2 linked regions of the Homo sapiens genome follow. The protein of the gene in region 1 purifies or fractionates together with the protein of each later gene. This does not show direct contact. Each region holds a gene or a part of one and is shown on either strand. Other genes may lie near its edges.

Region 1 (3,500 bases):
TGTTCAGGTGCAGAGAGGTAGGAGTGGAAGCTATCCTGGTAGAAGAGCCTCACGCCCCATAGGAGCCAAAGCTCTTGAAACACGCTCTGGGCATAGCTCCCCATTCTGTGCAAGGGCCATGCCCAGCTACAAGATCACCACGCTCGGGAAGTCCAAATCAGGATTCTTGGCTTCCTATCAGATAGCTACAGGTTCCTAGATCCTCCAGGCTGTGCAGTTCACCAGTCAGAGGTCATTCTTACGTAGATAGTGTTGCCTAGTAACATAGTTGACACACTCTTTTAGCAGGTTACCAAATGTAGCCAAAGATCAGACTCCCGTGTAGAAAGGGAAAAGACGTACGTTAATTCCTTACCTACTCTCATTCCCATTTTACAGAGAATAAACCTGAGATTCAGAGAAGTTTATCAACTTGCCTCAAATTACATAATAACCCAGCCAGGATTTGAACCCCGGCCTGACTCCAAATACCATGCTCTTAACTAAAATGCAAGATGTAAACATTTTTTTCTACCCCCATAAGCATGTCCGTGTTTATTTTGCTATTTGAAACACTAGTTTGAATTACTTAACCCTCGAGAACAATCGGCCTTCCTGGAAGCAGCAGCCTGTTTATCCTGTGGCTTTGCCACTCCCTGGCGCACTGCATACCCCAGTGTGAGAAGCTCAGCACCATGATAGTTAGCAGTTCTTCTTAGGATAATAAAAAAAAAAGCACTAGTTCTTTGCTTTTCTCTGTGAGTCTGTATTTTTAGTAGAGGTTTATGAGGCGGAGGGAAAGAAGTTTAAGGACAATAGAACCAGTTTTGCATCTGAAGATAAATGAGTACCTACCTGGCTACCAGGTGCAAACAATTCTCTTTTGCCTTGACATTCCTTTCTTCTTTTTAAATCATCACTATCCTATAGCACAAAACCTAAGAGCTCAAGGCAAAGCTTTATTACTAAGCTCAGTTCAGCATATAAAATCCAGTTTATATATCTGGATTATATTGCAAGAACCATTCAAGAAATGTGCCATCCATGTTCCAAGTATAAAAATAGAAATTTTAAGACAGCGTAACAGTATTACTGTTGTTTCATTGGGTGTTTAATTGACTTCAAGCTTTCGCCAGGTATTAGAACTATCTGTTGACTTCCAAAACTTCATTGTGTAGTGAGGAAAAATACTAAGGAATTTTGTAGACAAAATGTGAAATAGGTTAGGTGAAATACCATGTTTAAGTGCAATGCAGTGAGCTTATGATAAATTATATTGAAATAGTCAAAATATAATTGATGCGGGAGGTGTTGGAGAGAGGCCTTGGGGGGCATGGAATGTTCTGTTTCTTAGCCTAGGTGGTGGGGACAGCTGTGGTTTTATCATCTGAACGCTATCATACATTTATGGACTATGCTTTCTATGGCAATTTTCAAAAATGCAGCTGACAAAGTTTGCCTGCCAATATGAAAAGGTGAATGTTCTTTAGGTAGGAGATACCATTTCATAGATTGTTTTGAATCTCATATTACAGGAATTTACAAAATGGTAGATTATACAGTGAGAAAAGAACAAAGTTTGAATATTACCAACATCAGAGAAGCACTGGAAGAATAACTGAAGTTTCCAAAGTGAAACTATCAGGAAAAGTCACCTTTCTCTTTATGAGTAATAAAATTAGAACATAAACAAATCATCAGTGGTGACCTCCTTCCTTGTGCTGCTCTCTTCCCTTCTTCTGGAATCTTCCTGGGCAGATGTATGCAGTTCTGTCTGTGTTTCCTGAGGTGGGCCTGGCCCTGTGCTAGGAACTGGGGACTAGAATCCTTGCCTTCATGACTAGGGAAGCAAGGACTCAATTAGCCAAGAAAAGTTTTTAAACCCAAATAACAATATGAGAATCAAAGTAATACCAAAAAATTTAAAAAAAAAAGTTTTCATGAGGCCATTTATGTTAGATGGCAGTTAAGTGGTACAAAGAAGAAATACTGCCAACCTGCAGATAAAGGAAGCACTGTCTACTTAGGAGTGGTTGGGGAACTTTGAGGATGTGTGGGCTTCCTATGGGTAGAAAAAGAGAGCAGACCTTCCAAGAGAGGAAGTCTTGTAACTGAAAGTATTACAGTGGGTGCAGATGTATTCTGTGTGTATAAGCTTCCTGGCAAGGAGGATTTGCTGGGTAAGAAATGGACCTGACTTTGAGAAACCTTAAAAATAACAAGCTAGAAGATAATTCCATTGCATTGGAAAAGGGAAGCTGTTGTGAGTTTTTGAGATTGGGACTGACCTGTGGCCAAGGTCCTTTTCCAGGGTCGTGCATGTCTGAAACTCTAATAAATGTCATCAGTCCTCATGCTCTATACATGGCCCAGGTTCCTTACCTTCCATTATTGTTTCAGATTCATGACAGATGCTGCCCGCCGAGAGCAGGAGTCCCTAAAGAAGAAGATTCAGCCGAAGCTCTCGCTGACTCTGTCCAGCTCAGTGTCTCGAGGGAATGTGTCCACTCCCCCACGCCACAGCAGTGGAAGCCTTACTCCCCCCGTGACCCCACCCATCACCCCCTCCTCTTCATTCCGCAGCAGCACTCCGACAGGTGAGTGGCCTGGCCCTACCGCCTTGAGAAGGAGGAGAGGGGAGAAAGAGAAAGTGTGTGTGATGTGCTGGGGGCAGAAAGGGGCTGGGGACAGATGACGACACAGACCCACCACATCGTTGATCCTTTCACTAGTCTACATATTGATAAATTCTTTAATTTATTATTGAAGAAATATTTATAGATTATTGTTAATATGCATGTGATAATGGTTTTGTAGATTTTTTGTCAATATATTTCCCATTTTTACCATGCATACCCATCTACACAACATTTTTAATGGGCTCTGTAATACATATTTCATCACCCGATTTACAACTAAATATATTATGAACGTTTTCTCTTGTAAAACAGTTAAAATAATTGTATCCTTTAGAGAAAACATAATTTATTAAGCAGTCTTGGAGAAATTTAGATATAATTTTTCTTCCAAGGAGACTTCATTGTTTTTACAACACCTTGAGAAGAAGGGGGAGTCCTTGTCTTCTCCAGCTTTTTCTATAGATAGTGGAAACTTGCCCTTCAATTTAGCTTTTTCATTTGCTTCTTTATACCCACCTATTCACCAATCAAGTAATCCATTTTATTTTTCCCAGTCCATCTCTCCTATTTGCCTTCTCTTTCCCGTCAGTCTCCCTGACACACATGTGGATGTGCACTACTCCAGCACTCTCATCTGCTCTCCTCCAGGTCCTCGCCTTAAAGAGGCTTCTGTCCTTTTAAGGGTACCATCTTCATTGATTTGGATCAACTCTGCTCAAAACTTTATCCTCAGTTCCACATTAGGATTAGCCTATAATAATCTGAAGACAAAGTTCAGTTGTTTAAAAGAAAATATTAGTAAGAAAACCTTGGTAGACTTACATGTCTCAAGAAACTAGAACTTCAGCTGGGTGCTGTGGCTCACATGTATAATCACAGCAC
Region 2 (3,500 bases), on another chromosome or scaffold:
TTTAGAAACAAGTGTTTTGCCATGCTGCCCAGGCTGGTCTCAAATCCATAGGTTCAAGTGATCTCCCCACCTCAGCCTCCCAAAGTGTTGGGACCACAGGCATGAGCCACCATGCTTGGCCAGAAAGAAGTTGTTAACAAAATACTTTCACCTACTATGTCCAGAGTATTTATTCGGATGATATTAGGAAGTCGATGTTCTAAATAAAAAGGACCTGATATGTAGAATTATTTCATTACTTAAACATTACAAAAATTAGCACAAGCTATACTACCAGCAACAAAAGGTTATTTAGGTAAAAAGCCATTTCTTTTTAATTCTTTGAAGTTGGTACATCCCCTTCACTAAGCCTGGAAACATATGTGTATCTGTTTTAATCTTCCAAACTTTTACTAAAATAAGGTAATTACCAAAAAAGGATAACTGTTATTAGTAGGTTAGAAAACACTGCTATTATCAGCTAATGTTTCTTAAATAATGGCACCAAGACTGTGGAGGTTAAAAGGAAAAAAAAAAAAAAGACATTTCATAAAATGATAATATATCCTCATATTAACACACAGCATCACGACTAAGATGATAAATTACACCCCAAATGCAAAACCTTGTAAGGAGCTATGTCAAATTCATTCAAGCTTACCTTGCAGGTAAGATTAAAACTATTAAGTTAGTCTCTGTCTGGTTGTTCAAAATTCCTCCCTTCCTACAAAATACTTAAGTTACAACCAAAACTGTAGTTAATATAAAAACTTGAGCCAAAAAGTGATGGGAGTCAATTCTGTTGTTTTTTTTTTTTTTTTGGACACAGGATCTCACTCTGTCACCCAGGCTGGATTGCAGTGGCAGCGATGATGGCTCACAGCAGCCTTGACCTCCTGGGCTTAGGTGATCCTCCCATCTCAGCCTCTCAAACAGCTGAGACCATAGGCGCGCCACCATGGCTGGCTAATTTTTTTTTTAAATTTCTTGTAGAAACAAAGACTCACTATGTTGCCCAGGCTGGTTTCAAATTCCCAGGCTCAAGTGGTCGTCCTGCCTTGGCCTACCAAAGTACTGGGATCACAGGCATAAGCCACCACGCCCTGACTCAAACTGTACTTTATACATAAAACTAAGCCAAAAGGTGATGGAGTTGATTCTGAACAAAGTCAACCTGGAAAACTCCATCTGCCACCCACACCCATTCTAAAGCTCAATGACAGACATCTGAATGTTCTCCAGTAAAACAGTGGCAAAAGCTGCCTGGCTGTTTTTAAAACTCTTACCACTTTCGTCTTTAGGATAAAGCTATTCCCTGAACTTGTAACTCTTAATAATTTACTGTACTAGAAAAAGCAATGTGTGATACTAGTCATACTGATGAATAATGCCAGCACAAGACTGTAAAATAACCCAAACTCAAAAGTAAATTCTATTCAGCTTCTAGAAAATACATCCCAGAGTCACCGTTCTATAATAAATGGGGGATTTCAGCAAAACTGTTACCCCATTTTACCTAGAAAACTTAGCTCCATCATTACATTTAAACAAGCTAAATAACTGAGACTTAGAAAAAAGTATTAGGTAGCATGATTTCAATATATACAGTGCTAATATGGCCTGATGACAATACTGTAATCTCACACCATAACACTGCATTTTCAGTAACGTTCAATTATGCTGGTCAGGCATGGTGTCTCGTTCCTATAATCCTGTCATTTTGAGAGGCTGAGGCGGGTGGATTGCTTGAGCCCAGGAGTTCAAGACCAGCCTGGGCAACATGGCAAAACCTCATCTTTACAAAAAATACAGAAATTAGCTGGACATGGTAGCAGGCACCTGTAGTCATAGCTAGTCAGGAAGGGGAGATGGGAGGATCAGTCTGGGTGACAGAGTAAGACCTTGTCTCAAAAAAAAATTTTTTTTTTAATTAAGTAAATAAAAATTTATACTTCTTTTTGTTGGTTCTTCTGTCTTCGGTGAAGTTAGGGCTGCTCACACACAGTAGCAATGATACTTTTCAAAATAAACCAGGCCTAAGAGGCATGGTGGCTCATGCCTGTAATACTTTGGGAGGCGGAGGCGAGAGGATCTGCTTGAGCCTGTGAGACTGAGACTGAGGCTGCAGTGAGCCATGGCTGCGCCACTGCACTCCAGCATGGGCAGCAGAGCAAGACTCTGTCTATATAAATAAAATAAAATAAAATAAATAAAATAAAATAAAACAGTCCTAAGAAAAGGAAAGAAATAGGGAAATACTGTTGGACTCAAAAGTTAACATCTGCTTACTGTCAAAATTTTCTTTAGGAAAATCACAAAAACAAAAACATCCAAAAAAAACTTCCTAAAAAAATTTAGGAAGCTTCTAAAATGTGTCTAAGCAAAATAACCCCAATCTATCTTAAACACAGCAATGGACTGAGCTGTTCTTAATCTGTTGAAATACTAAAAAACAGAATGTTTCTCTTTTTTATGAGATAGTGTCTCACTCTGTTGCCCAGGCTAGAGTGCAGTGGTGCCATCTTGACTCACTGCAACCTCCGCCTCCCAAGTTCAAGCAATTCTCCTGCCTCAGCCTCCCAAGTAACTGGGGTTACGGGGGGTGTGCCACTGCACCCTGCTAATTTTTTTTTAATTTTTATTATTATTTTTTTTTGAGATGGAGTCTCGCTCTCTTACCCAGGCTGGAGTGCAGTGGTGCGATCTCAGCTCACTGCAAGCTCCGCCCCCTGGGTTTATGTCATTCTCCTGCCTCAGCCTCCTGAGTAGCTGGGAATACAGGCGCCTACCACTACGCCCGGCTAATTTTTTGTATATTTAGTAGAGACGGGGTTTCACCGTGTTAGCCAGGATGGTCTCCATCTCCTGACCTCGTGATCCACCTGCCTCAGCCTCCCAAAGTGCTGGGATTACAGGCGTGAGCCACCGCGCCTGGCCAATTTTTATATTTTTAGTAGAGATGGGGTTTCACCATGACCAGGCTGGTCTCAAACTCCTGACCTCAGGTGATCCGCCCCCCCCCCCCCCCCTCCGGAGCCTCCCAAAGTGCTGGGATTAACAGGCGTGAGCCACCACGCCGGGCCAGAATACAGACTTTTTCATTATTGTATTAAGAGATGGGGTTTGGATATGGTAGCTCACACCTGTAATCCCAGCACTTCGGGAGGCCAAGGCAGGAGGACTGCTTGAGCCCAGGAGTTGGAGATAGGCCTGGACAACACAGCAAGACCCTATCTCTGCTAAAAATAAAAAATTAGCCAGGTGTAGTCCCAGCTACTCAGGAGGCTGAGGTGAGAGGACTGCTTGAGCCCAGGAAGTCAAGGGTGCAGTGAACTACAATCATGTCACACTGCACACTGCACTCCAACCTGGGTGACAGAGTGAGACAATGTCTCCAAAAAAAAAAAAAAAAAAAAAAAAGGAAGATCAAAGAAGGAGGTTAAGAAGACAAATAATGAACACATCTACTACTGGACCATGAGACTAATTAAAAACTGGAAAGGTTCCTACCCCTTCTGAAG

The links.
Region 2: the proteins of JAZF1 (region 1) and DDI2 purify together in Homo sapiens (affinity purification with mass spectrometry; one large-scale study listed by BioGRID and IntAct). This does not show direct contact.

What each region holds. Positions count from the first base shown.
Region 1 is NC_000007.14:27,894,296-27,897,795, reverse strand, and holds part of JAZF1 (juxtaposed with another zinc finger protein 1), read left to right. Parts: intron 1-2,379; coding exon 2,380-2,576; intron 2,577-3,500. UniProt on the Homo sapiens protein: Acts as a transcriptional corepressor of orphan nuclear receptor NR2C2. Inhibits expression of the gluconeogenesis enzyme PCK2 through inhibition of NR2C2 activity.
Region 2 is NC_000001.11:15,651,958-15,655,457, reverse strand, and holds part of DDI2 (protein DDI1 homolog 2), read right to left. Parts: intron 1-3,500. UniProt on the Homo sapiens protein: Aspartic protease that mediates the cleavage of NFE2L1/NRF1 at 'Leu-104', thereby promoting release of NFE2L1/NRF1 from the endoplasmic reticulum membrane.